7 separate regions of the Homo sapiens genome follow, and regions 2, 3, 4, 5, 6 and 7 are each linked to region 1. Evidence: fine-mapped expression QTL. A gene starts in region 1. Each other region holds a variant in brackets. All regions are shown on one strand. Distances are between the middles of the regions. Region 1 holds the start of TRIOBP (TRIO and F-actin binding protein). Region 2 has its middle 8.2 kb from the start of LGALS2. Region 3 overlaps BAIAP2L2 (BAR/IMD domain containing adaptor protein 2 like 2). Region 4 has its middle 12 kb from the start of MIR4534. Region 5 overlaps TRIOBP (TRIO and F-actin binding protein). Region 6 overlaps TRIOBP (TRIO and F-actin binding protein). Region 7 has its middle 14 kb from the start of H1-0.

The links. PIP is the estimated chance that this variant, and not a neighbour inherited with it, causes the effect.
Region 2: its variant is fine-mapped to the expression of TRIOBP in gastroesophageal junction (GTEx, PIP 0.99).
Region 3: its variant is fine-mapped to the expression of TRIOBP in whole blood (TOPMed, PIP above 0.99).
Region 4: its variant is fine-mapped to the expression of TRIOBP in whole blood (INTERVAL, PIP 0.98).
Region 5: its variant is fine-mapped to the expression of TRIOBP in whole blood (INTERVAL, PIP above 0.99).
Region 6: its variant is fine-mapped to the expression of TRIOBP in monocytes after LPS (Quach 2016, PIP 0.95).
Region 7: its variant is fine-mapped to the expression of TRIOBP in whole blood (INTERVAL, PIP 0.90).

Annotation. Positions count from the first base shown.
Region 1 is chr22:37,695,019-37,699,094 of GRCh38, forward strand. TRIOBP (TRIO and F-actin binding protein) reads left to right here and starts at 2,030. Exons shown (of 24, transcript NM_001039141.3): 1 at 2,030-2,071; 2 at 2,570-2,678.
Region 2 is chr22:37,586,239-37,590,314 of GRCh38, forward strand. No RefSeq gene overlaps it. Among named protein-coding and RNA genes, the nearest start is that of LGALS2, 8.2 kb to the left of the region's middle. The variant G/A (reference allele first, on the strand shown) is at 1,842.
Region 3 is chr22:38,089,628-38,093,627 of GRCh38, forward strand. It overlaps BAIAP2L2 (BAR/IMD domain containing adaptor protein 2 like 2), which reads right to left. Exons shown (of 14, transcript NM_025045.6): 8 at 1-47. Among named protein-coding and RNA genes, the nearest start is that of SLC16A8, 7.4 kb to the left of the region's middle. The variant C/A (reference allele first, on the strand shown) is at 1,886.
Region 4 is chr22:37,998,479-38,002,554 of GRCh38, forward strand. It overlaps a transcript of POLR2F not described here. Among named protein-coding and RNA genes, the nearest start is that of MIR4534, 12 kb to the left of the region's middle. RefSeq lists an enhancer at 1-714 and a silencer at 104-398. The variant C/T (reference allele first, on the strand shown) is at 1,735.
Region 5 is chr22:37,752,669-37,756,744 of GRCh38, forward strand. TRIOBP (TRIO and F-actin binding protein) reads left to right here. Exons shown (of 24, transcript NM_001039141.3): 13 at 2,209-2,316; 14 at 2,433-2,522; 15 at 2,882-2,991. Among named protein-coding and RNA genes, the nearest start is that of H1-0, 51 kb to the right of the region's middle. RefSeq lists enhancers at 1-71, 1-506, 2,154-3,353. The variant G/A (reference allele first, on the strand shown) is at 2,495.
Region 6 is chr22:37,766,772-37,770,847 of GRCh38, forward strand. It overlaps TRIOBP (TRIO and F-actin binding protein), which reads left to right. Exons shown (of 24, transcript NM_001039141.3): 19 at 1,303-1,405; 20 at 2,257-2,416; 21 at 2,491-2,604. Among named protein-coding and RNA genes, the nearest start is that of H1-0, 36 kb to the right of the region's middle. The variant T/TC (reference allele first, on the strand shown) is at 1,796.
Region 7 is chr22:37,789,181-37,793,256 of GRCh38, forward strand. No RefSeq gene overlaps it. Among named protein-coding and RNA genes, the nearest start is that of H1-0, 14 kb to the right of the region's middle. The variant GGCGGAGGTTGCAGTGA/G (reference allele first, on the strand shown) is at 2,160.

The DNA of each region.
Region 1 (4,076 bases):
CAAAAATGAGAGAATGAGGCCAGGCGCAGTGGCTCACACCTGTAATCCCAGCATTTTGGGAGGCCAAGGCGGGCAGATCACGAGGTCAGGAGATCAAGACCGTCCTGGCTAACACGGTGAAACCCCGTCTCTACTAAAAATACAAAAAATTAGTTGGGCGTGGTGGCGGGCACCTGTAGTCCCAGCTACTTGGGAGGCTGAGGCAGGAGAATGGCATGAACCCGGGAGGCGGAGCTTGCAGTGAGCAGAGATCGCGCCACTGCACTCCAGCCTGGGCAACTGAGCGAGAATCTGTCTCAAAAAAAAAAAAAAAAAAAAAATGAGAGAATGGGTGTTGGGGTATAATCAGCAGATTATTTCACAGAAGCCAAATATATAAAGGGCTGTCATGAGGGGATCCATCTGTGTGGAGCTAAAGTCACAGCAGACATTTATCCATCCTCGGTTTTCACACCAAGGTCAGGCCCTGTGCTAGTACATGATGAGCTGTGGCCATAGTTACCTGAGGCTGGGCTCAGCCCATTAAAATAAAACTTCTTTTGGTACGATCTGTTTTGGGGTGGCCTGAGCTCTCCCCAGGGGGGTGAGGTGAGGAACTGTGGGGGCAGGTGTTCTGGGGTCATATAAGCCTCAGCGTCCATCCTTTCCAAGGTCCCAGTGGTGCTGACGACCTTGACGCCCCCAGGTTTGAGCCATTGACCTTCCTTTGGCTTGCAGGTGGCTCTGGTGAGGGGCTTCAGTTCCTCCTGAGCTTGGAGAGCTCACTGCCTGCTCCCTTGTGAGGACTGCTAGAAATGCCCGCCTTGTTCTGAGCTAGCATTGGCCTCCCCCAGCCACCTTCAGAGGTTTGCAGGCTGTTCTCAGCCTTTCTCGATCTCCTCACCTTTGAGCCACCTCCAAGGAGAAGCCTTCTCTGCCTTCCTCCTTTCTCCACCTGACCTCCCATGATAGTAGGTGTTTCCTTCTTTTAAACACTGAACACAGTGAATCCTGGTTTGTCCCTCGAACCAGACCAGAGCTTTCTGAGTGAGAAATTGTATCTTAGTCATTTCTGTTTCTGCTCTGGGCACAAGCTTGTGTCAATGTAGGTTCTCAGCCAATCCTGTCTGAATCCAACCCCCAGGTGATCCCCAACAACTCTCAAAATAATCTAAGATTTCTGTGACCCTAGTGCCAAGCTCACCTGCCTACAAGTGTCTGAATCTAGTTTACCTTCCCTGTCTCATCACTGCACCCATCTCTCCTGGACTCCTGCTGCAACCTTCCTCCCTGTCCAGTGAATTTCGCCCTCCTCCTCCCATCCCAGTCGCCACAATTGGCAAATATCAACCAAAAGGAAAAAAGATGGGAAACAAGTTTTTTTTTTTTTTTTTTTTTTTTTTTTTAAGGCGGAGTCTCACTCTGTTGCCCAGGCTGGAGTGCAGTGGTGTGATTTCGGCTCACTGCAACCTCCGCCTCCCGGGTTCAAGCGATGCTCCTGCCTCAGCCTTCTGAGTAGCTGAGACTACAGGCGCACACCACCACGCCAGGCTATTTTTTTTTTCTTTTTTATACAAGAGTTTTGCTCTGTCGCCCAGGCTGGAGTGCAATGGCGCTATCTCAGCTCACTGCAACCTCCGCCTCCTCGGTAAGAAAACTGTCATGACAGAGAGGTTAAGACTCTAGTCCAAGGTCTGTGCTAAAGCCAGCCCAGCGGACTGTCGGCAGAATGAACCAACGGGAAAGAGGTCAGAAGGAGCCAGATCCGCCAGTGCCAGCCCTCTCCAGGGCTCCCTGGGGACCCCCAGCGGGCAAGGGCTGCAGGCGGCCCAGGCTAAACGTGCAGTGAGTCCCGCTCTCAGAGGTATCTGCGCCCCGCCTGCCTCCGCCCCGCCCCTTGTTCTGGTTTGTCCAGTCCCACAGAGTCCCACAGTCTTCATGTAAATGAGGCACCCAGAGAGAGCCTATGCGAGCGTGGCAGGGGCGTGGCCTTCCACCTCCCGAGCATCGCTCTGATTCATTGTTAAAATAAAGAGGCCATGACCCTGGCACTCCCACCCCGGCAGCCCCTGTGCGTGGAAACCCAGCCAAGGTTAGCACTGGGCCTCAGAAAAGAGGAGCTGGTAGGGGGAGGCCTACAGGAGGGGTAGGGGTCGAGGGATCCGGGGAGGAACTGGCTGAATGCCTGGATGGAGAGGGTCCCGGGTCCATTCTCTGGGTGGGGCATGTGTAGCTGCTTAAGGTTTTGATTATTATATCCACATCTCAAGTGCATTTTAGAGAAGGATTCTGCCTATTGGTTGTGGGTAGGGGAGGAAACGGGAGCAGCGAGGGGCACGTGGAGTAGAGCCCCCTACCCACCCCCAGGAAAATGAGCGGCGTTCTCCTGCTAGGCGACGCTCCTTTATGTGGCCAGACCAGGAGAGAAACGCCCAGGACGGGCGGGGCCGATGCGCCCCTCTTCCACCACCAGGAGTCGGGAGGACGACCGCCCGGGGAGGATCAGAGACCCTGGGGCCACGGAAGGACCAGTGGGTAGCCCTCTCCCCACCGTGCCTTGCTGTCGCCCCCACCGCATTCCCTTCTCCAGGTCTGATGATGGAGGAGCCTTGGCCCTGGCTGTCCCAGGGGAGGAGGTGAAATTCCTCAGCTCTCCACCAAGATTGGCCACAAAAGCCTGATCCCCTGGAACACAGCAGGTGAGGATGGATGTGGGCAGGTGACCTGGGGGCACCAAAAGCTGCAGGTGTTTTGGGATGTTGGGTTCCTCCCACCCCCCACCCTCCCCCTGGGGCTCTGTGTGAGTGGGGAGGCCATCTTTAAGTGATTCTCCTGACCCAGCTCCACTCCAGGGCATGGATGTTGGTGGCCTTAGGGGCACCCAGAAAGGAGAACCCTTGCACAAGTAAGATACCAGGGCGGCCGGGCGCGGTGGCTCAAGCCTGTAATCCCAGCACTTTGGGAGGTCGAGGTGGGTGGATCACAAGGTCAGGAGTTCGAGACCAGCCTGGCCCATATGGTGAAACCTCGTCTCTACCAAAAATACAAAAAAATTATCCGGGCATGGTGGCACATGCCTGTAATCCCAGCTATTTGGGAGGCTGCGGCAGGAGAATTGCTTGAATCCGGGAGGCAGAGGTTGCAGTGAGCCGAGATCGCGCCACTGCACTCCAGCCTGGGTGATAGACCGAGATTCTGTCTCAAAAAAAAAAAAAAAAAAAGAAAGAAAGACACCAGGGTTTCAGAAGGGTATGATGCTTCACACCTGTAATCCCAGCACTTTGAGGGAAGGAGGAGGATTACTTGAGGTCAGGAGTTCAGGAGTTCAAAACCAGCCTGGGTAACACTGCAAGAGCCTTTTTTTTTTTTTTTTTTTTTTTTGAGACACACTGTTGCCCAGGCTGGAGTGCAGCGGGGCGATCTTAGCTCCACTGCAACCTCCACCTCCTGGGTTCAAGCAATTCTCTTGCCCCAGCCTCTTGAGTAGCTGGGATTACAGGCATGCGCACCACGCCCAGCTAATTTTTATAGTTTTAGTAGAGACAGGGTTTCATCATGTTGGGCAGGCTGGTCTTGAATTCCTGGCCTCAAGTGATCTGCCTGCCTCAGCCTCCCAAAGTGCTGGGATTATAGGCGTGAGCCACCGCACCTGGCCAAGAGCCCATTTTTACAAAATAAAAAAGAAAAAAATTAGCTGGGCGTGGTGGCGTACACCTGTAGTCCCAGTTACTCAGTCCCAGAGACTGAGGCAGGAGAATCATTTGAGCCCGGGAGTTTGAGGTTGCAAGGAGCTATGATCGAGCCACTGCACTCCAGCCTGGGTGACAGAGCAAGACCCTGCCCCCACCTCCCCAAAAAAGACATTAGGGGCCGGATGCAGTGGCTCACACCTGTAATCCCAGCATTTTGGGAGGCCGAAGGGGGCGGATCACCTGAGGTCAGGAGTTCACCTGGCCAACATGGCGAAACCCCGTTGCTACTAAAAATACAAAAATTAGCCAGGCATGACGGTGCATGCCTGTGATCCCAGATACTACTGGGGAGGCTGAGGTAGAATTGCTTGAACCCAGGAGGCGGAGGTTGCAGTGAGCCGAGTG
Region 2 (4,076 bases), 110 kb before region 1:
TCAGGAGTTCGAGACCAGCCTGGCCAACATGGCGAAACCCTGTCTTTACTAAAAATACAAAATAATTAGCAGGGCGCGGTGATGCGCACCTGTAATCCCAGCTACTCAGGAGGCTGAGGCAGGAGAATCGCTTGAACCTGGGAGGCTGCAGCGAGCCAAGATCACGCCATTGCACTCCAGCCTGGGTGACAAGAATGAGACTCCATCTCAAAAAAAAAAAAAAAACACAGAAATTCTTCCGTAAAGAAATTCCCTGGCAGGGCGCGTTGGCTCACGCCTGTAATCCCAGCACTTTGGGAGGCCGAGGCAGGCGGATCACCTGAGGTTGGGAGTTCGAAACCAGCCTGACCAACAAGGAGAAACCCCATCTCTACTAAAAATATAAAATTAGCCAGGCGTAGTGGTGCATGCTTGTAATCCCAGCTGCTCGGGAAGCTGAGGCAGGAGAATTTCTGGAACCCAGGAGGCAGAGATTGCAGTGAGCCGAGATCGCACCATTGCACTCCAGCCTGGGCAACAAGAGCAAAACTCCATCTCAAAAAAAAAAAAAAAAAAAAAAAAGAAATTCCCTGACCTACCTTGTCATAAGACCCTCATTTCAGAAGGGGTCCTGCTCCATCCCTTGGAGTAAGAAATGCTGCACAGAGAGGCCAAGAAGAATCTGAACAGACGGGCCTTGCGGGGGTTCCACACTTCGTCTAGTAATATTAGATCAGATCCTTTTTGCCCATTCACAGTTCTACACAGAGGTCAATCATGCCGGCATAATAAAGTCCCCATAAAAGGCCCCAGGGGATTGGGTTTGGGCAGCTTCTGAGATAGCTGAACACATGGCTGTCCTGAAGGATGGTGCTCCCAGGTGGGAGGGGAAGCTCTGCATCTCTTCCCCATAACCCGCCCTAAACATCTCTTCATCTGTATGTTTTATAACATCCTTTATAATAGACCAGTACACACAAATGTTTCCCTGACTTCTGTGAGCCACTCTAACAAATTAACTGAACCCAAAGAGGGGTCGTGGGATCCCCAACTTGAAGTCCAGAGGCTCAGACTTGCAACTGGTGTGGAGGGAGAGGGGAGTCAGGGAGAGGGAGCTCAGGAGTTCGAGACCAGCCTGGCCAACATGGTGAAATCCTGTCTCTACTAAAAATACAAAAATTAGCCAAGCGTGGTGGCACACACCTGTAAGCCCAGCTACTCTGGAAGCTGAGAAAGGAGAATTGCTTGAATCCAGGAGGTTGCAGTGAGCCGAGATTGTGCCACTGTACTCCAGCCTGGGTGACAGAGTGAAACTCTGCCTCAAAAAAGGAGAAAAAAGAGGCCTGGCGTGGTGGCCCACACCTGTAATCCCAGCACTTTGGGAGGTTGAGGTGGGTGGCTTACCTGAGGTCAGGAGCTCGAGACCAGCCTGGCCAACACAGAGAAACCCCGTCTCTACTAAAAATACAAAAATTAGCTGGGCGTGGTGGTGCGCACCTGTAATCCCAGCTACTCGGGAGGCTGAGGCAGGAGAATCACTTGAACCTGGGAGGCAGAGGCTGCAGTGAGCCGAGATCGGGCCATTGCACTCCAGCCTGGGCAATAGAGTGAGACTGCATCTCAAAAAAAAGAAAAGAAAAAGAAAAAAGAAAAAAGATGCATGGTTAAGTGGGTGGATGGGTGAGGAGGTGGAGGGAGGGGTGGGTGCATGGATGGTGGATCAGCAGGAGGAATTGCTCATCATAGAGCCCCAAAGGGTGGGTATCTTCAGGGCCCCAATCTGGTGCAGCACGGCCCCTCCCTCCATCCCTCCTGCCCCCTCCCTGGCTTATCATCCCAGCCTTTTGAACCAGGAAGCCTCC[G/A]TCTCAGGGCCACGCCAACTTATGCACGTGTGGTGCTGGGTGGATTTACAGAAAAGATCATCAGGTTCTGTGTCCACCTTCTTATAAGTGGCAAGAAGATTTTCCATCTCTGTGTCTTTAGAAATTGAAGATATAAACCAAGCTGCTTCTGTGACTTGGGTGGTCCTTGAGTGCTCTTCCTCAGAGACAGGTGACCTGAGTCCTGAGTGCAGTTCCTTCTCCCTGGCCCAGGCCACACAGTCTTTCCATGGATAGTGGAGCCTTTTTTTTTTTTTGAGACAGAGTCTCGCTCTGTTGCCCAGGCTGGACTGCAGTGGTGCAATCTCGGCTCACTGTGACCTCCACCTTCCAGGTTCAAGTGATTCTCCTGCTTCAGCCTCCCAAGTAGCTGGGATTATAGGCACCCGCCATCACGCCCGACTAATTTTTGTATTTGTAGTAGAGACGAGGTTTCACCATGTTGGCCAGGCTTTTCCTGAACTCCTGACCGCAGGTGATCTGCCTGCCTTGGCTTCCCAAGGTGCTGGGATTACAGGCGTGAGCCACAGCGCCTGACCTGAGCCTTCTGCATCTTAATCACCCAGTCACAGCTGTCCATGCGGGCGGGTACCTGGGGATGGTGAGGAGAGGCTAAAACAACAGAAGCAATGAAGCAACGCTGCTCACCCCAGCATTCCCACCCCACCCCCAGCTTCTGGCAGGATTATATCTGCCAAGGACAGGACTATATCCGCCTCAATCTTTGTGTTTGCCAAGCAGGGAGAGGAGCATTTATCCATCTCTAATGTGGTAAACAACCAAAGGAGGTCCCCCGCCAAGTGCAGCCCTAGTCGCAGGAGCACACCCACTCCCAAGGCTTCTGATCCACCCTGAGCACCTATGGCCACTGGAAACCCCCACTCTTACTGAAGTCTGTCCCTGGGGGCAATCCCCTTCCTCTCACAGTTGGCCCCAGCTCTGCCCTGGGCCACACAGATTCTGCTGCCATCACTGCTTTTCTGATGATTGCAGTCTCAGGACCATCTGGGCTGCCTCCCCGCAGCACCCCGTACATATACAAGCCTCCTTCCTCAAGGGGAAACACCTATGAGCCCCCAGGGCCTCATCTCCCAGAATCAGAATCCAAAGGATTCCAGAAGCAGCTTGGTTTAAATGGACATTTTCCTGAAGGCCAAAATCAACAGGTACAGGCCTTCAGGGAAATGTCCATTTCAGAAGCTGACCCTTTATTTTTAGGATGGGAGCAGGACCTAGGTGCCGTAATACCCTTGCAGGTCAAGTTCACAACCCCCGAGACCCACCAACCAGAGCGGTCATGAATTCTCCCCTAATTCCCAGAGCCCCTGGGGAGACCATGGGCTGCAGGAGAGCAGATGAGACTGTGGCTGGGTGTCCAGAGCTGCTGCCTGCTCCGGCACCTTCATGGAATGGCATTGGCCTCAAGTCCTCGCTGCCTCTTACTGGCTGTGTGACCTTGGGCAGGCCAGGTAGCCTCAGCTTCCTAGAGAATGTATGTAATGGGCTTGGCATACAGAATATGGCACATAGTAGGTACTCAACTATTATTATTCTGTATTTAATAGCTAATTGGCTGGCATTTGCTCAGCACTCTGCATACATTGGGCCATTGCGAGGTCTCTCGCCTGCATCTTAGTTTGCTAATTAGGTGCTTATCTGGGACCTTCCTGGAGCAGGCATTCTCTGCTCCATTCTCTCCTCTGTACGCGTGACAGCCCCAACCCTTGTTCCCCCAGCAGGAGCAAAAGGGGTTGGGTATGATGACCTCCAGCTCAATGTCTAAGGATCTCTGGGTTTCAGTTTCCCCCTCGGCCAGCTCCTCCTGCCCCTACCAGCCACCTCCCAAGCTGGGGATTTCACTGGCCCACCTTTGTTCCCTGCAGAATCCTAGAGTCCTCCAGCCCTTCCCTCTCTGGCCTTCACACTCCACATCCTCAGCCCAGCACAGGAGCCAATTTTGCAAAGAGGTAAAGAGACCTCACCACTGCTGCACCAGTCTGTCCATTTCCTAGCAGGCAACTGGCACTTGTTTGGTTTTATAAATTAAGGTTTCGATTCTTGGCCAGGCGCGATGCCTCACACCTGTAATCCCAGCACTTTGGGAGGCCAAGGGTGGTGGATTACCTGAGGTTAGGAGTTCAAGATCAGCTCTGCCAACATGGTGAAACCCCATCTCTACTAAAAATACAAAAATTAACCGGGCATGGTGGCTCATGC
Region 3 (4,000 bases), 390 kb after region 1:
GACTGCTCCTTCCACAGCAGCACGCGGTTCTGGAGCATCCCCCGGGCCTGGCCGGGCGGGGACACGGGGGTCAGCCAGGTCCGGGCGGCTCCCTGAATCCTGGGGACCCAAAATGACACCCTCGACCTGAGAGCTCAGGCCCTACCAGCTCGGGACGACCGGATTTTCTAGCTGGAAGGAGCCAGAAGCCAGCTCACCGTCCAACCCGCACCCTCTACTTTTGGCAAAGGCACCTCCATTTTCCACGAAGAGCTTCCTCTGACCCCCCGCTTCCCGCGTCAATGTGTGTGCTTTGAGCGGGGCTGTCCTCACCGCCCAGCTTCAGGGGTAGGGGTGGCACCCAGGCCTGGCCACTCAATCACCCCATCCTCCTTCCTGCAGCGATAGGCTCAGGAATGGCGCTTAGATAGAAACTACGACCAAAGAACCCAGTCCCATTACTTACTTACCCAGTAACACTATGGAAAATGCATTTTTTTTTTTTTTTTTTTTTTTTTTTTTTAGACGGAGTCTGGCTCTGTCGCCCAGGCTGGAGTGCAATGGCGCGATCTCGGCTCACTGCAAGCTCCGCCTCCCGGGTTCATGCCATTCTCCTTCCTCAGCCTCCCGAGTAGCTGGGATTACAGGCGCCTGCCACCATGCCCAGCTAATTTTTGTATTTTTAGTAGAGACGGGGTTTCACCATGTTGGCCAGGCTGGTCTCAAACTCCTGACCTCAGGTGATCTGCCTGCCCTCGGACTCCCAAAGTGCTGGGATTACAGGCGTGAGCCACCGAGCCTGGCCTAAAACTTCTTTCAATGGCACTGACCTTTCTGTGTTGTCACTCAGTCATAATAAAATCCCAGGTACAATCAGAATGCTGCATTCTCCAGCCATAAAGATCGCTCCCTCTTTTCAAACATCCCTGTCCCTCAAGGCCTAGCTCAAGACGGTCACCTTAAGAAAAGCTCCCTTTGTCGAGCAGTGACTCCATACCAGGCCCTGCTTTAAACGCTTTATCTGCATTATCTTACTTGATTCTCGCAATAGCCCTGGGTGGTAGGTGCAATTATTATCTCCAGTTTATAAAAGAAGATACTGAGGGTCAGAGAAGTTAAGTGACTGGCTCAAGGTGTCACATTCAGTAAGCGTTGAAGGGGTCTGTGTTGGTCTGTCCTTGAAGATGCCCCCTACGACTACACTTTCAATGATTTCTGCCTTGAACCTGGCCCCATGACTAAAAACCTCACGTCAAACTCAGGCAGCAATAACGGGAAGGCTTGGTGCCTCCCATCACTGGAGCAACTAGTCTAGCTGGTCACTAAGTGGACAGCCCCTCTGTTTCCCTGCAGTAACTAATTAGCAGAATAGCACAAAGATAAAACCCGAAGGCCTTTGTGCAGAAGTTTCAGAGACATAAGCAAAGTGAGAGCATTAGGTTCTGCATATCTTTCTTGTTGTTGTTGTTGAGACAGAGTCTCGCTCTGTTGCCCAGGCTGGAGTGCAGTGGCACGATCTTGGCTCACTGCAACCTCCGCCTCCCGGCTTCAAGTGATTATTCTGCCTCAGCTTCCCAAGTAACTGGGACTACAGGCGTGCGCCACCACTCCTGGCTAATTTTTGTATTTTTAGTAGAGACAGGGTTTCACCATATAGGCCAGGCTGGTCTCAAAGTCCTCAACTCGTGATCCACCCGCCTTAGCCTCACAAAGTGCTGGGATTACAGGTGTGAGCCACTGCACCCAGTCACATGTCGTATTTTAAAAGGGATTTAAAAGTATCATTGGATTGTTTGTAACACGAAGGATAAATGCTTGAGGGGATGGATACCCATTCTCCAGCATGTCATGATTACACATTGCATGCCTGTATCAAAACACCTCATGTACCCCATAAATATATACA[C/A]CTACTATGTACCACAAAAATTAAAATAAATGGTGGGTGAGAAGAAACACTGCATACGGTTTCAAAACCATCAGAGAGGCCATGGGAAAAATTTTAAAAATATATTTACGAAGTGAAACAGCCATTCTAAGTATGACACCAAACCCATAAACTTGAAAAGACCGATACATTTTACTAAATAAAAATAATGTTTTTGTATAGCAAAACCAATCATAACACAGGCAAATGATAATGGCAAACTGGCTATTGTATTTGCAACTCATCACCAAGAAAAAGCTGGTTTCAGTAACATATCAAGAGCTCCTACAAATTAATAAGTGGATGAAAAGATACTGGCATGTCACAGCACAGAAAATCCAATGGCTTTGAAACATGAAAAGATGTCAAGCTCGCGTTTAAGACAAGTATGAGGTAAAGCCACACCGAGATACCATTTTTACCTTTCTAATTAGCCAAGATCAGAAAGTTTGCTCATACACTGTTGTCAAGGGGTGCAGAAGCACAGAAACTCATACATCACTGATGGAAGTGTAAACTGGTGCAACCAATGACTATATTCTTGGGCTTACCAATTCCACTTCTAGGAATTTATCCTGGAGATACATTTGCACAGCTGCAGTAAACGAGAGAAGCTAAGGATGAGGTGGGAAGGCACGTTACTGACTAGACTTGGACTAAGCAAAGACTAATTAGCGAAGATGAATAAGAAAGACAATTTACCGTGCCCGGGCACCTAGAGTTCTTTAAATCTTATTCTAAGGCTGCCTTCTTTTTTTGAGAGAGAGAGCGAGCCTTGCTCTGTTGCCCAGGCTGGAGTGCAGTGGCGCAATCTCGGCTCACTGCAACCTCTGCCTCCCGGGTTCAAGCCATCCTCGTGCCTCAGCCTCCCGAGTAGCTGTGATTACAGTCATCCGCCACCATTCCTGACTAATTTTTGTATTTTTAGTAGAGACGGGGTTTCACCATGTTGGCCAGGCTGGTCTTGAACTCCTGATCTCAGGTGATCCACCCACCTCGACCTCCCAAAGTGCTGGGATTACAGACATGAGCCACCACGCCCACCCCAAATGTGCCTTCTACTTATAAATAGAACAAGAAGTAAATATATATGCTTAGCTATCTTAGGAGTTAGATCTTGGATGTTTTAAAGTCCAGCTGGGTCAGACAACATGTTACTTGCTCCCTATGTGATATGGTTTGGATATTTGTCCTCTCTAAATTTCATCTTGAAATCTGACCCCCCAGTGTTGGAGGTGGGATCTAGTGGGAGGTGATGGGGGCAGCTCCCTCATAAATGGCTTGGTGCTGTACCCCACGGTAATGAGTGGTATGAGTTCATGCAAGATCTCCTTGTTTAAAAGATTGCAGTGGCCGGGCGCGGTGGCTCACACCTTAATTCCAGCACTTTGGGAGGCCGAGGTGGGTGGGTGGATCACCTGAGGTCAGGAGTTCAAGACCAGCCTGGCCAACATGGTGAAACCCCGTCTCTACTAAAAATACAAAAATTAACGGGCATGGTGGTGCATGCCTGTAATCCCAGCTACTCAGGAGGCTGAGGCAGGAGAATCGCTTGAACCCAGGAGGTGGAGGTTGCAGTGAGCTGAGATCATGCCACTGCACTCCAGCCTGAGCAACAAGAGCAGAACTCCATCTTAAAATAAAAAGAAAAAAGAAAGAGTGTGGCACCCCACCGGCTCCCTCTCTGGCCATGTGATATGAACTTCCCCTTTGCCTTCTGCCATGATTGTAAGCTTCTAGAGGCTTCGCCAGGAGCAGATGCGGGCAATGCACTTCTTGTACAGCCTGCAGAACTGAGAGCCAAATAAACATCTTTTAAAATAAATTACCCAGCCTCAGGTATTCCTTTATAGCAATGCACAACGGACTAACACACCATGCATAGGGGAAAATCTGCCTGTTCAACCCACAGCTCCCTCCTGAGGGACCCTCACCCACGAGGAGGCAGTCAAGGAGGGGGTCAGCTCTTCTCTTAATGTTGATGGTTAACTATTTACAGGCAAAAAGGAGTTTAACACAGGTGAAAAAGAGTTTCCTTCCAAAGAAGATCTATAAATAGCTAAGAAGCACAGGAAAACATGTTTAACATCACTAGCC
Region 4 (4,076 bases), 300 kb after region 1:
CCTCAGGTGAGGAGTTGCTGTCAGGCTCCCTGGGCAGGTTGGGGTGGTCCTGCTGTCCCACCCTGGGGACTTTATTCCAGGGGCTGTGGGCTGGAAGGAGCCCCTGTTCCTTCCAGACTCCCTCTCTGCACCCTCCCTACTGCTGGCCCTGTGGCCCTGGGCGTGGGATGTGCAGAGGACCGGCCAGGAGAAGGGTTAAGTCAGGGACTCTTGGGATGGCTTTGGCCACGGCCATTCCTCCGAGAGAAGAGAACAAGGGGCCCATTCTGTGTGTGGGAATTAATAGCAAAGAGTCATCTGGGGTGTCACTCAAGCACTGATCGACTCCCAGAGGAATGTGAGAGGGAGAGAGAGAGGGAGAGGAGAGGAGAGGAGAGGAGAGGAGAGGTGTGGTGGGGGCTGAGACGGAGATGTCAAAGGCAGGGCATTAGGGTCTGGCTGGTACAGGAGCCCGCCCTGGTAGGAGGACCCGCCGCCCCAAGATGGGTCCTGCTTTTCACCACAGATGCGCCCCCGTCCCTACACAAGATGAAGACCCCCTCCTGTCATTCCCTCACCCAGGGCCTCCCCCTTCTGTCTTCCCTCATTCCCAGACGGCCGTACCCTCTACCCCGAGGTGGGCCTGCTGGGCAGCTGGCCCTGAGTTCCTGGGCTCTCCCAGTCTGCCCCCATCTTTGCTGAGAGATCCAGGTGCTCCTTGTGGGAAATGCCCTGGGGATGGTGCTGTGGAGTGCCAGCCTGGGGTCCTGAGTTGTACCCTCTGTCCCAGGATCCAGGAGCCCCACTTGCCTGGCTCCAGGCCCAGTTCAGACACATTTCTACCGGGTGGCTGCAGGCACCTTTGGCCGCCTGCGTGTGGGGATGCTGGAGCTTGTCGGCCATCACAGGGGGCTCAGCCTTCCTCGTCAGCTCAGGCCCCTGTGGCAGCCTCAGCCTGGCCTGTGGTCACTGAGGACCAGCAGGTCTCCTGACATCCGAATGTCATACCCTAAGGAAGGCCTTGGCGAGGCTCCAGGAGGCCTAGGAGGGTGTGGTGCTCTCCTGCTCCAGTTGTGGGGCTGAGTCAGAATCCTCCCAGGTCATCTGCACCTGGGCGTCCTGACACCCCTTCCCCTCCCCAGGGCCTCAGGCTGGCCACCGAGCCGAAATGAGCCTAGACTCTGTGGGACGCAGAGGCAGTGGGGTGCGGAGGATGAGGGCTTTGGGGCAGTCAGAGCAGGGTGCCCCACTCCTTGGCCCTGTGACCTGGGCAGAGCTCCTTTGTCTCTCTGAGCCCCGGGGTTTCCTCTTGAAAATGGGTCATGTCATAACTGGCAGGTTCAGAGGTAAGAGAAGGTAACAGGTGTCAAGTGCCCGACACAATAGCCAACCACTGTGTGTTGTTATTTTTATTGTGATGATTATTGTTATTGGAGGGCTGGGCAGCCTCCACTACCCTTGGGCTGGAAGGCACACTGTGCACACCATTTGACTGCCTGGATCTGCACCTGGCAGCCTGTGCCCGCTAGGCGAATCGCAGGGATCCCAGCACTGTTCCTCCTCAGCTGTGGTTTTGGCGAGGGTGAGCTTATTGGCCCCCAGACCTCCTGTGTGCCAGCGTCATTTCCATATCTGGTGACTCATCCTGCTGGTCCTGCCGGAACATGATGCCTCCCCTGACGGCATGGTGCAGGCACAGTGTGTGCAGCCACTGGCCTCGGTTCCTCCCCTGGGAGTTGGCCACCTGCGCCCCCA[C/T]GGTAGACTCTGGCATGCTAAAGCCTGAAGGGAGCTTAGCGGTTGTCCAGCCGGACCTTCTTATTGTACTGACAGGGAGCTGAGGTCTAGAAAAGAGAGGGCCTTTCTGGGGCACTGTGGAGTAAACAGAGTTGGCAGGCTCTTCTACATTGGGCTAGGAGTCTGGACTCCTGGGTTCTTGCCCAAACTTGGATGCTAGGGGCCAAGTGGGCTGGGAAAATTCCTTACTTATAGCTGGGGTGGGGAGAGGACACACGGAGAAAGAAGGTGGAGCCTTTTGCAAACTAAAGTGCTTTCCAAATATGGGGGGTTATCAGGAGGGTGGCTTTGGGCCCCTCGAGATGGTGCTGACCCTGTGTTCCTCTGCAGTCTGTGCAGGGCACTAGGGTGGTTGGTGTCACCAGCCCAGGGGCTGCTGGACACAGGCCCCACCCAGAGGAATAAGCCAACACCATTGAGGAGGGGCAGCCCAGGGCTCCCTGCCTGGCTTTGGAGGTGTAAGGTGTTTGAAATAACATTCTCCAACATGCTCAAAGTGAAACCAGCTTCCTTTGGGAACATATGGAGACCACAGGCACTTCACAGGGGCTGATGAGGACCCACCAACTCTGCTGTGGGCTCTGTCCCTGCCCTCGGAGCTCATAGCCTGGTGACCTTGGCATTCATTATTTTCATTCCAGTTCTCAGCACAGCGCTTGGCACATAGTAGGAACTCAGGAAGTGTTTATGGGATGGAATGGGGTGATGATGTTGAGGCAAGATGAAGGGTATGAACGGAGATGACATCTGCGTCTTGCCTGGAAGCAGAGGGTAGGAAAAGGAGCAAGTAAGGAGTGGCGGCTGGCATGGGTGCAGCACCACTGAGAGGAGGGGTTGAGAGAGGTTAGAGAAGGACTAGAGTCAACACTCCTGAGAGCCCTTCTTTGCCCTGTGGCCTCTTACTTGCAAGCTAGTTCCCCTCTCTCAGCCTCAGTTTCCTAATCTGTAAAACAGGGATAATAGAATTTATTCATGAGTTGTTGCAAGGCTCAAGAACGGTAACACATGGGCCATGGCAGGCTCTCGACCGTGCCTGCTGGACACCCAGTGTGTTGTGAACAGAGATCTTTAGAGAGAACAGATAAAAATTACAGAAGTATCTTATAGAGACACAGTTGACAGATACAGAAATAATGTGAGTTGCATCATATTAGATTCAGAGAGATTAAAGATAGATTTTTAGGGGAATTTACGAATTTATTCATTTTGGGGACACAGAGAGCGATGAGCACTGGGATGGAGACAGTGAATGCCTGACATTGGAGGCTCCTGGACTATAGAGTTGCTTTGTTTGTTTTTTGGATGGAGTCTCATTCTGTTGCCCAGGCTGGAGTGCTATGGTATAATGTCGGCTCACTGCAACCTCTGCCTCCCAGGTTCAAGCGATTCTCCTGCCTCAGCCTCCTGAGTAGCTGGGATTACAGGCATGTACCACTATGCCTGACTAATTTTTGTATTTTTAGTAGAGATGGGGTTTCACCATGTTGGCCAGGCTGGTCTCCATCTCCTGACCTCAAGTGATCTGCCCGCTTAGGCCTTTCCAAGTGCTGGGATTACAAGTGTGAGCCACCTTGCCTGGCCAAGTGGTTTTTTTTGGATGGAGTCTCACTCTGGTGCCCAGACTGGAGTGCAGTGGCATGATCTTGGCTCACTGCAACCTCTGCCTCCTGGGCTCAAGCAATTCTCCCACTTCCGCCTCCTGAGTAGCTGGGATTACAGGCACCTGCCACCATGCCTGTATTTTGTAAAAATACGAAAATACAAATTTTTGTATTTTTAGTAGAGACCAGGTTTCACCATGTTGGTCAGGCTGGTCCCAAACTCCTGACCTCGGGTGATCCATCCACCTCAGCCTCTCAAAGTGCTAGGATTACATGCGCGAGCCAGCACACCTGGCCTTTTTTTTTTTTTTAATTTATTTTTTTCCCCAAACTTGGACAAAGCATATCACTTCTAGACTTTTTATTGGGCCACAAAAGTGCTTAAGAACTAAAGAAGAAAACTCCAGCTCCAAAGTATACAAAAATAGCAACAGAGAAATTATTCAAAATTTTAAATGAAAAATAAAAAAGACTCTTTAAAACTTGTTTATAGCCAACCAGTTCTATGTAGCATGTGACGTGGGTACATTTCAACATGCTTGATGCAATGTGGGGTCAGTGGGACCCACAAGAGTCTTATAAAGTGTCCAGGGCACTGCAACCTCCGCCTCCCAGGCTCAAGCAATTCTCCCACCTCAGCCTCCTGAGTAGCTGGGATTACAGGCACCTGCCACCATGCCCGGCTAATTTTTGTATTTCTAG
Region 5 (4,076 bases), 58 kb after region 1:
GCTGTCCCTGGTGGCTGCTCTCTAGGCTCACACAAAGCCCGGCACCCCGCCAGTGACCCCTTCCTGGCCTCCCCACCCAGGGTCCCCGGAGGGCAGAGGGATTACAGGCCCCACCCAGAGCTGGCCATTAGTCATCCTCTATCACAGGGTTCTGGAATGTCCGAACTGGAAGGGCCCTGGGAATTCAGCCAGCCCAACCCCTTGGTGCACAGACAGGAGACGGGCCCATGAGGGTGTTGGTCTCTTCCAGGCCTAGGAGCACCTGGGGCAGACCCAGGCTCAGAACTCAGCGCACCTGAGGCCCATGGAGCTCCACCCAGCTTCCATCTCAGACAGTCATAGGCTAGGCCTGGAAGAGCTAAAGAAACCTCTTGGCATAGAACCCCTGTCCTACTTTACAGAGAGGCAATTGAGGTCTGCAGCAGCAACTCCGTTTACTTAGTGAGAGGAAAATGCTTCTAAGAGGCCTGGCCTCCCAGAACAAACCCAGCAACCTGGTTGGTGTCCATCCCTATGCCAAGGGCCATGACAGCCATCCACACAAGAGAGGATGGGCGCCGCTCGCCTCACCAGAAGGTCTAGGCACTTCTTTTTTTGTTTTTTATTTTTGTTTTTTTTTTTCTGAGGCAGAGTTTCACTCTTGTTGCCCAGGCTGGAGTGCAGTGGCGCAACCTCGGCTCACTGTGTCTTCCGCCTCCCGGGTTCAAGCGATTCTCCTGCCTCAGCCTCCCGAGTAGCCGGGATTACAGGCATGCGCCACCATGCCCATCTAATTTTTTTTTGTATTTTTAGTAGAGACAGGGTTTCTCCATGTTGGTCAGGCTGGTCTCGAACTCCTGACCTCAGATGATCCACCCTTCTCAGCCTCCCAAAGTGCTGGGATTATAGGCGCGAGCTACCGCGCCCAGCTATAGGGACTTCTTAGTAGCCCTACTTTATGGTTCAGAAGACTGAAGCTCAGAAAAGTGGAGACACTTGCCTAAAGGCACACAGAGAGAAAGGGAACTCTTGGATACAAAACTCCTTTTCTCAGGGAGGCAATGTGGAAAGAAGCAGAAGGTATCGTCGTTGCATGCCCCTTGAGAACTTACCATCTTCTTGAGGAGAGAAAACTAAGTACTTGAAACAACCAACAGCACAGACAGGGCTTGGTGATGTGAGGGAACCCTGGGAGGGCTGGGGACCGGGTGATATGCACTGACCCTGGCAGTGGGCGGGCCGCGACTGGCATTCCAGTGGAGTGACCAGAAGCCCAGAGGTGGGCTGGGCTTGGCATACTATCAGGCTGTTCTGGCGCCCCCACCCCTTTCCTACATGTCCTGCCAATCTAACCCCAGCTGGAGCAGAGACAGGCACTGCAGGAAGGCACCCAATCACAAATCCTAAACTTACAGCTTAGGGCGCTCTCACCTGCTGCGGATGTGGGTAGCCAGCCTACAGTTCAAGAAGCAGACCGTGCATCTGGGCGCGGTGGCTCACGCCTGTAATCCCAGCACTTTGGGAGGCCAAGGCAGGTGAATCACCTGAGGCCAGGAGTTTGAGACCAGCCTGGCTGACATGATGAAACCCTATCTCTACTAAAAATACAAGAAATTAGCTGAGCATGATGGCGGGCGCCTGTAATCCCAGCTACTCGGGAGGCTAAGACAGGAGAATCACTTGAACTCAGGAGGAGGGGGAGGTTGCAGTGAGTGGAGATTGCACCATTGCACTCCAGCCTGGGCAACAAGAGCAAAACTCCTCCATCTCAAAAAAAAAAAAAAAAAAAGGCAGCAGATTGTGGCTGGCACTCACTCCTACTCCAGGGCTCCATCCAGTCCTACTTCCCAGGGGACCATTGTCCCTGACCATGGTGATGATCTGGGGGAATATGGAAAAAGACGTAACGTCCTGGCCCCGCTGAGTCCCTGACTTGCTTACACAGGTCATCACCCCTCCCTGTCTGCACTGGGTCCGGGGTGCCTGAGGAGCCTTGGCAATCTTAAAAGGAGCTCCAAGAAGGAAAGGGAGGGTGTGGTTACGGAGGGGAAACCAATCCATTTCACAGATGCTACCCCTGAGGCTCAGAGAGGAAATGGAGGGGCCAGGTCTCAAATTGGCATTTTCCGCCTCCCCACCCCTCCTGTGTGCAGCATAGTGAGTTTGGCAGCCACACAGGACACCTGTACAATCACACACACTGGCTCTTTCATTCCATCCTCCTTGCAGCCTCCCTCCCCCTCGCTCACCACCACCTCTACTTCGCAGTGGAAGAAACATTGGTTTGTGCTGACAGATTCAAGTCTCAAATATTACAGAGACTCCACTGCTGAGGAGGTGAGGCCATGGGTGTACTGATGAACCCCCGGAAGGGCCTGGGGTGGCCTGGCTGGGTTCACTGGGGTGGGTCACACCAGGGCCCACACGGACCATAGTGGGCCCTCTTGCTCCAGGCAGATGAGCTGGATGGTGAGATCGACCTGCGTTCCTGCACGGATGTCACTGAGTACGCGGT[G/A]CAGCGCAACTATGGCTTCCAGATCCACGTGAGGCTGTGTGCAGCTTGGGGGCTGGTGGTGGGCAGCATGGCTGGAGGTCCCTGGGGGAGGTTTTGGTGTTGAACATGGCTCACCATGGAGACTGGATCCCTTCACTCATTTACCCAGAGGCCCTATCTTCAGAGCCAGAGCTGTGATGCCAACACTTAGCATATCTGGGGGAGACGCTGGAGCCAGCAGGGCTCTTCCCAGGCCAATGGAAGGGAGGTTTTGTACCCCCTGCCCACCCCAGACTCAAGACCTTAGATGCATCCTGGGAAGGAAGGGCCACCCTCCCTGGGGTCCATAGTGGGGAGGGAGTCATGCGGCTGGCCATGTGGCAACCTACCCATGCGGTGGCCTTGCAGACCAAGGATGCTGTCTATACCTTGTCGGCCATGACCTCAGGCATCCGGCGGAACTGGATCGAGGCTCTGAGAAAGACCGTACGTCCAACTTCAGCCCCAGATGTCACCAAGTACGTACTAAGCTGGACTGGGGCCTTGAGGGAGGCACTTACCCTTGCGTCCCCGAGTGGGTTTCTAGGTACTCACCTGAGGGCTGCACCTTTCTGGGCCCTCGTTTCTCTGTCAACAACATGGGAAGAGAGTAGTGAGCATTCTCGGTATCATCCAGAAGTACACTGAGGGTTTGAGGTTTGATCTGTCTTCTCAAATGTGATGGGGCCTCTTCTCTTTGGAGGAGATGCCTGTGAGTCAAAAGCCCCTGCCAGGTGGCTGTTCTGTCTCTGTGTCTGTGCCGTGGGGGCCGTGTCTAAGCCTGTGTTAGGAAGGGGTGGTTAGGTAGTTCAGCCTTGGCGCCCACACCTCCCGGGATGGGGAGCTCACTCCTTCTGGAGGCTGCCACGGGCACTGGGGCAGGAGGGCTGAGTTACCGAGTGGCAGAGCCCCCCACAGTTTATACCCAGATGCCCATGGCGGGCTGGGACTTGGAGCTGCTGGGCAGCGGGAACAGAGTGTGGTATTAAAGGGGGCTGGGCTGGGTGTAGTGGCTCACACCTGTAATCCCAGCGATTTGGGAGGCTGAGATGGGAGGATCACTTGAGCTCAGGAGTTCAAGACCAGCCTGGGCAATATAGTGAGACCTCGTCCCTACAAAAAATTTAAAAATCAGCTGGCCGTGGTAGGGTGCGCCTGTCAGCTGAGGTGGGAGGATCACCTGAGCCCGGAGGCCGAGTCCCCCAGACTGGCCACACCGCGGCTATTCAGCCTTAGGCCAGAGGCTTTCCTGTCTAGGTTTCAGAGTCCCCATCTGTCACGTTAGCATGTCATGTCTGTACATGTGCCAGGATGTGCCCAGAGCACTTTGTGAACTCTGAAGCACTGTGCAGTTGGACTGTTATTTAGCATCTAGGCCCAGCTGCTTTAAGAAAGAAACCCCGGGCACAGTAACTTCATCGAGATAGATGTTCATGTCTCCCTTCAGAACAGCCCCGAGGTATGCAGTCCTGGCCTGGTGGGGCTCGCTCTGCCGTTTCAGGGGAGCCACCTGCCACACCCACTCGGCAGCCTATAGTCACATGGCTACAAGTAGCTGTGGGAA
Region 6 (4,076 bases), 72 kb after region 1:
CCAACATGGTGAAACCCCATCTCTACTAAAAATACAAAAATTAGCTGGGCGTGATGGTGGGCAGCTGCAATCCCAGCTACTCAGGAGGCTAAGGCAGGAGAATCTCTTGAACCCAGGAGACAGAGGCTGCAGTGAGCTGAGATTGCACCACTGCACTCCAGCCTGGATGACAGAGTAAGACTCCATCAAAAAAAAAAAAGGCCAGGCACTGTGGCTCATGCCTGTAATCCCAGCACTTTGGGAGGCCGAGGCAGGTGCATCACGAGGTCAGGAGTTCAAGACCAGCCTGGCCAAGATGGTGAAACCCTGTCTCTACTATGAATACAAAAATTAGCCATGCGCGGTGGCAGGCGCGTGTAATCCCAGCTACTCAGGAGGCTGAGGCAGGAGAATCGCTTGAAAGTGGGCGGCAAAGGTTGTAGTGAACCAAGATTGTGCCACTGCACTCCAGCCTGGGTGACAGAGTGAGACTCCGTCTCCTGGGTGACAGAGTGAGACTCCGTCTCCTGGGTGACAGAGTGAGACTCTGTCTCAAAAAAAAAAAGAAAGAAAAAAAGGAGAGAAACTTTCAATGTTCAGAAGTTTCGGATTTTAGAATTGTGGGTAAAACCATGGGTGGCCCTGAGTGGGAAAAAAAAAGCCTCGGTCTCAGTCCTTAGGAGCTCACAATCTGAGAATAAAGCCAGCAGGAGCTAATGTTGGGGCATTTACTCTGAGCCATGCTTTGTTCTAAATTCTTCACACACCTTCCAATAACCCCATGGAGGAAAGGTACTGTTGTTATCGATCCCTGTTTTCCAGATAAGGGATCTGAGGCACAAGGGGTTAAGTCACCTGTGCAAAGTCACATCGGTTTATGCTGACTGTGGAGCCTGAGCTCTTGACCACGAGGCTGGTCAAAGCAGATAGGCCTTGTTTGAGAGCCCTCAGAGTCTGCAGGGGGGGTGTACTAGGTGGGGTCCTACCTGGAAATCACTAGAACAGGAGGTACCAATGGTCAGACCCTGAGCTGTCTCCCCAGTAGGGTCCATCCAACAGGATTATCTTCCCTTAATAGATGGGCTGAGAGAGGTTGAGAGCTTACCCCAAGCCACTCAGTTTATGACACAACCTGGGCTACTCTAGACTCCTGGTTCGGTGCTCTTTGCATAGCACTCCTTGGTCCAAGTCCATAGTACTTGCATAGTACTATGTGGAGTCCACATAGTACTCCACCAGTACATGTGGCGTCTCAGAGCTGGTGGCACTTGGTGCTGCTGACCCCCCTCCAGTCTCTCTTGTGCCTCTCTGCCCTGCTTCCAGCCATTGAAGCCATGAAGAAGGCCTACCAGGAAGAGCTGAGCCGAGAGCTGAGCAAAACACGGAGTCTCCAGCAGGGCCCGGATGGCCTCCGGAAGCAGCACCAGTAAGATGATGCCGGGGCCCAACTGCCCACCCTGATGGTTATGGGTTGAGGAACTTTGCTGAGGCCCCTTGGCAGCGGACACATCAGTTTGCCCCTAGCTGAGATTCCTGCTCCAGTCTCATGGATGCAAGAAACAGAAGCAGAAGGTCCTCAGGCAGACCCCATGCCAGTCCTCACAGACAGTCCTTCAGGCAGCTTCTTGTCTTGGCTGGTCCCAGCCTCCACCCACCTCTTCACCCCTTTAGTCTCCCCTGGAGCTGGGCTGCAGTGTCACTGTTGACCACTAGGCCTCTCCCTGCCCCAGAGCACAGTTTTGGAATGTTGAGGTTTCAGGGGCTTTAACTTTAAAGATGGGCCCCTCCAGCCGGGCACATTGGCTCATGCCTGTAA[T/TC]CCCAGCACTTTGGGAGGCTGGGATCAGGAGTTCGAGACTAGCCTGGCCAACATGGTGAAACCCCATCTCTACTAAAAATACAAGCTAGCTGAATGTGGTGGCGGGAGCCTGCAATTCTAGCTACTTGGGAGGCTGAGGCAGGAGAATCGCTTGAACCCAGGAGGCAGAGGTTGCAGTGAGCCAAGATTGTGCCATTGTATTCCAGCCTGGGCAACAAGAGTGAGAGCAAGACTCCATCTAAAAAAAAAAAAAAAGATGGGCTCCTCCAAGCCACCCTCACTTAGGGTAAACACCTGTAGCCCAGAGAAGCTGTCACTGGTTCACAGCCCCACAGCAGGCTAAAGGCAAACCTAGAGAGGGAACCCCAGAGTCCTGGGATGCTTTAAGTCTACCTGACTGGACTCCAGGCTTGGCAGGAGCAAGACAACCTATGCTCTCCTCTGCTCCTCCTCTGGGGCAGGTCAGATGTGGAGGCACTGAAGCGAGAGCTGCAGGTGCTATCGGAGCAGTACTCGCAGAAGTGCCTGGAGATTGGGGCACTCATGCGGCAGGCTGAGGAGCGCGAGCACACGCTGCGCCGCTGCCAGCAGGAGGGCCAGGAGCTGCTGCGCCACAACCAGGTGGGCCTGGCCCCAGGTTGGGGGGACACGGGTGGGTCCCGGCACCCCTCCCCTGACCACCGTGCCTCTCCCAGGAGCTGCATGGCCGCCTGTCAGAGGAGATAGACCAGCTGCGCGGCTTCATTGCCTCGCAGGGCATGGGCAATGGCTGCGGGCGCAGCAACGAGCGGAGTTCCTGCGAGCTAGAGGTGAGTGTCCTCACTAGCACCAGGCAGCCCAGTGGTTCTCGGGGCCCGGGGCTATGGGGCACCCCCGCCATAGGCTGGGTATCACCTGTGGCAGGAAAGCCAAGTCTCCCAGTGGCTGGGCCAGCCTGACTAGGCTAGAACACCTACTGTGCATCCAGTAGCCAGCATTCTGCCCTCCCACCTGCATTGTGTCACCTACCTGCCGTGTACCATAGCAAATCACTCCACTTTTCTGAGTCCCAGTAGCTCATCTGTAAAATGGCACCAGCACCTTCCTTACTGGGAAATATTGGGGTAAGAAAATATGTGTGTATGTGTGTGATGCCAGTATCACTGTAGTATTTTCTTTCTTTTTCTTTCTTTCTTTTTTTGAGACAGAGTCTCTCTCTGTCACCCAGGCTGGAGTGTAGTGACACGATCTCAGTTCACTGCAACCTCTGCCTCCCTGGTTCAAGCGATTCTCCTGCCTCAGCCTCCCAAGTAGCTAGGATTACAGGCCTGCACCACCACACCCAGCTAATTTTTTATATTTTTGGTAGAGACAAGTTTCACTATGTTGGCCAGGCTGGTCTCGAACTCCGGACCTCAAGTGATCTGCCTACCTTGGCCTCACAAAGTGCTGGGATTACAGCATGAGCCACCACACCCGGCCTTAGTATTTATTTCTTTACTTTTTTTTTTTTTTTGAGACAGAGTTTTGCTGTTGTTGCCCAGGCTACAGTGCAGTGGCGCGATCTCGGCTCACCACAACCTCCGCCTCCCAGGTTAAAACGATTCTCCTGGCCGGGCGCGGTGGCTCACGCCTGTAATCCCAGCACTTTGGGAGGCCGAGGCGGGCAGATCACGAGGTAGGAGATCAAGACCATCCTGGCTAACACAGTGAAACCCCGTCTCTACTAAAAATACAAAAAAATTACCCGGGCGTGGTGGCGGGCGCGGTGGCGGGTGCCTGTAGTCCCAGCCACTCCGGAGGCTGAGGCAGGAGAATGGCATGAACCTGGGAGGCGGAGCGTGCAGTGAGCCGAGATCGTGCCACTGCACTCCAGCCTGGGTGACAGAGCGAGACTCCGTCTCAAAAAAAAAAAAAATATTAAAAAAAAAAAGCGATTATCCTGCCTCAGCCTCCCAAGTAGCTAGGATTACAGGCATGTGCCACCTCGCCTGGATAATTTTGTATTTTTAGTAGAGACAGGGTTTTTCCATGTTGGTCAGGCTCTTCTCGAACTCCCAACCTCAGGTGATCCGCCCACTTCGGCCTCTCAAAGTGTTGGGATTACAGGCGTGAGCCACCGTGCCCAGCCGATATTTTATTTCTCTTTTTTTTTTTGAGACGGAGTCACTCTGTCACCCAGGCTGGAGTGCAGTGGCACCATCTCGGCTCACTGCAAGCTCCGCCTCTCGGGTTCATGCCATTCTCCTGCCTCAGCCTCCCGAGTAGCTGGGACTACAGGCACCCGCCACCACACCTGGCT
Region 7 (4,076 bases), 94 kb after region 1:
GGTCAGGAGATCGAGACCATCCTGGCTAACAGGGTGAAACCCTGTCTCTACTAAAAATACAAAAAATTAGCTGGGCATGGTGGCGGGCACCTGTAGTCCCAGCTACTCAGGAAACTGAGGCAGGAGAATGGCGTGAACCCGGGAGGTGGAGCTTGCACGGAGCCGAGATCGCACCACTGCACTCTAGCCTGGGCGACAGAGCGAAACTCTGTCTCAAAAAAAAAAAAAAAGAGTGAAACTCCGTCTCAAAAAAATAATTAATTACAAATAAATTTTTAAAAATTAAACAGTAAAAACTCAAGTAAAGTCACGTGGAACTGCCAATCAAAGCTTTGGATCAGTGGAAGAAAATCCATTGCTCCCACACTGAATGGATATAAAGCTTAGCCAAAAACAAAGATACTTAACATGGTCATGAACCTCTGCTGCCTTGTTTTGGGTAAACACGTCATTTCTGTCCAGGTGTCTGAAATACCAAGGATGATACAGCTAATACTTAACTGCTAATACTAAAACAGCTAATACTTAAACTGCACTTACTTTGTGTCAGGAATTCCATTTTTTTGTTTTTTTTGAGACGGAGATCTGTCTCCCAGGCTGGAATGCAGTGGCGCGATCTCGGCTCATTGCAACCTCCGCCTCCCGGGTTCAAGTGATTCTCCTGCCTCAGCCTCCCGAGTACCTGGGATTACAGGCACGTGCCACCATGCCCGGCTGATTTTTGTATTTTTAGTAAAGACAGGATTTCACCATGTTGGCCAGGCTGGTCTCGAACTCCTGACCACAGGTGATATACCCCCCACTCATCCTCCCAAAGTGCCAAGACTACAAGCATGAGCCACTATGCCCGGCCTGTGTCAGGAACTTCTAAGTGAGATATATAATGATATATAACTCATATGATATCTATCATTTGCTACATACAGAGTATGTACACACGTATGTATTTATAACATACATATCCATTTAGTCCTCAAGAAAACTCTATCAGGCAAATGCCATTATTATCGCCAATTACTATAATGCCCAGGGGAGGAAACTGAGGCACAGAAGGGTCATTATTATTTTTGCCAAGACCCTCATACTTATGACTTGGAAGGGCTGGGATTTGAAACCATACAACCTGGACCTCCAGTACTTGGGCCTCACCACTATGCTAGACTTTGGGACTTCTAGCAGATAGAAGAAGTCCATCCAAACCTTCAGTTTACAGGATCACCCACATGGCCCAGAGAGGATTAGCAAATGCCCTCAGGTCACACAGCAGATTTGGGTGCTTCTCCTACCAGCCCACATTGCCTCCTAAGGTATGTTTAACATCTTTAATGTCTATGGGGGAAGGGCCCTAAACGTTTCTGAAGAAACCCACTCCTCCCTGCAAGCAGCGCTGTGTGCTCCACCCCCAGCCAGCACCAAAGCATATGTGAATACCTGCAGGGACTGATGCCAGCTGCATTTGGGCCCCAGTTGGGCATGGCCCTCACCAGAGAGCAGTCCCTGTTGTCCCTGGTGCTTGTCACAGCACCAGTTAGTGCATTGAGAGTATGGTTCATGGAGGAGAAAATATTTTCCCAGCCGGGCATGGTGGCTCCCACCTGTAATCCCAGCACTTTGGGAGGCCAAGGCAGGTGGATCACTTGAGGTCAGGAATTCAAGACCAGCCTGGCCAACACAGTGAAACCGCATCTCTACAAAAATACAAAAATACAAAAATTATCCGAGCATGATGGCAGGTGAAACCCCCGTCTCTACGAAAAATACAAAAAATTAGCCAGGCGTGGTGGCGCGTGCCTGTAAGTCCTAACTACTCGGCAGGCAAAGGTGGGAGAATCTCCTGAGCCAGGGAGATAGAGGCTGCAGTGAGCCAAGCCACTGCACTCCAGTCTGGGCAACTGGAGTGAGAGAGACCCTGTCTCAAAAAAAAAAAAAAAAAAAAGTAATACACATGGCCAGCCGCAGTGGCTCACGCCTGTAATCCCAGCACTTTGGGAGGCCGAGGCTGGCAGATCACCTGAGGTCAGGAGTTCAACACCAGCCTGGCCAACATGGTGAAACCCCTCTCTACTAAAAATACAAAAATTAGCCAGGCGTGGTGGCAAGTAGTGCCTGTAATCCCAGCTACTTGGGAGGCTGAGGCACGAGAATCACTTGAACCAGGA[GGCGGAGGTTGCAGTGA/G]GCCGAGATCGTGCCACTGCACTCCAGCCTGGGCGACAGAGTGAGACGCAGTCTCAAAAAAAAAAAAAAAAAAAGACACGCTTATTGTTTATAAACTAAAACAGTATAGAAGTGTATAAACTAGGCTGGGCGCGGTGGCTCACGCTTGTAATCTCAGCACTTTGGGAGGCCGAGGCAGGCGGATCACGAGGTCAGGAGATCGAGACCACGGTGAAACCCTGTCTCTACTAAAAATACAAAAAATTAGCCGGGCGTGGTGGTGGGCGCCTGTAGTCCCAGCTACTCGGAGAGGTTGAGGCAGGAGAACGGCGTGAACCCGGGAGGCGGAGCTTGCAGTGAGCCGAGATTGCGCCACTGCACTCCAGCCTGGGCGACAGAGTAAGACTCTGTCTCAAAAAAAAAAACAAAAAAAAAACCAAACAAACAAACAAAAAGAAGTGTATAAAGTAAAAAATAACAGTGCACTGTGACCCAAATCCATTTCTCAGAGAAAATCATTACTATGAACATGGAGTGTCCACACATGTACACGCACTCACGGGCCACTTCACCAGCTTGGAGAACAACCCTAGCCACAGTGCTTGCGGTTGCTTTTTTAACCAATCTCTCCTGCATCCTCATTCATTTATTGTTAAGAAGCCCAGCATCTCCCTCTTGAGGTCTCTTCCAGAATAGTCTGGGAATCCCAAGGACTCACTCTGTCCAAAGAAGGCCAGTCCTACTCTGCAAGGCCTAGTGGTGCACTGCGTGGGCCCCGAGGCAGTCCTCTCAGTTCACTCCAGGAGCTCAGCTCCCTGAAAGGAAAATGATGCCAAGCCAGGCGCAGTGGCTCACACCTTTAATCTTAGCAATTTGGGAGGCTGAGGCAGGTGGATCACTTGAGGTCAGAAGTTCAAGACCAGCCTGGCCAATATGGTGAAACCCCATCTCTACTAAAAATACAAAACTTAGGCCGGGCACAGTGGCTCACACCTGTAATCCCAGCACTTTGGGAGGCCGACGTGGGCGGATCACCTGAGGTCGGGAGTTCAAGACCAGCCTGACCAACATGGTGAAACCCCATCTCTACTAAAAATACAAAAATTAGCCAGGCGTGGTGGTGCATGCCTGTAATCCCAGCTACTTGGGAGGCTGAGGCAGGAGAATCGCTTGAACCTGGGAGGCAGAGGTTGCAGTGAGCCGCGATCGAGATTGCGCCATTGCACTCCAGCCTGGATGACAGATCCAGACTCTATCTCAAAAAAAAAAAAAAAAAAAAAAAAAGAAGAGGAAAGAAAGAAAAAGGAAATGACGCCAGAGTGGGCAGGTCCAACAGGACTTTCAGCCCAAACCACACATGGCACCTGTGTCCCTCACCAATGCCTGGCCTCTGGCACTGAGCTTGGGTCACCTGTCCACATCTACTTCCCATGGAGTGAGTTATTTCCTTTGAGGCATGAGTGTCCTCTCTGCCAGCTGGACAGGACTGTCCTGATGGGTCAGATAGCAGCTAATCCTATCAGGAGAGAGGAACTGGGGCCCAATCTCATTTCTCTTGGCGGTCCCCAGACTAGCCACAAATTTGCCCACCTCCTGCCAGGTTAAGAGAAAGGCAGTTTTGAGAGTTGATTAAGAGCATGGAGTTTCCTGTAATCCCAGAACTTTGGGAGGCCAAGCTGGGAGGACCACTTGAGGCCAGGAGTTCAAGACCAGCCTGGGCAATATAGTGAGGCCCCATCTCTACAGAAATTTTAAAAATTAGCTGAACGTGGTGATGCGCACCTGTGGTCCCAGCTACTTGGGAGGCTGAAGCAGGAGGATCACTTGAGCCCAGGAGTTCAAGGTTGCAGTGAGCCATGATTTGTGTTTCAGCCTTAGTGACAGAGTGACACCCTGTGTCACAAACAAATAAACAACAACAA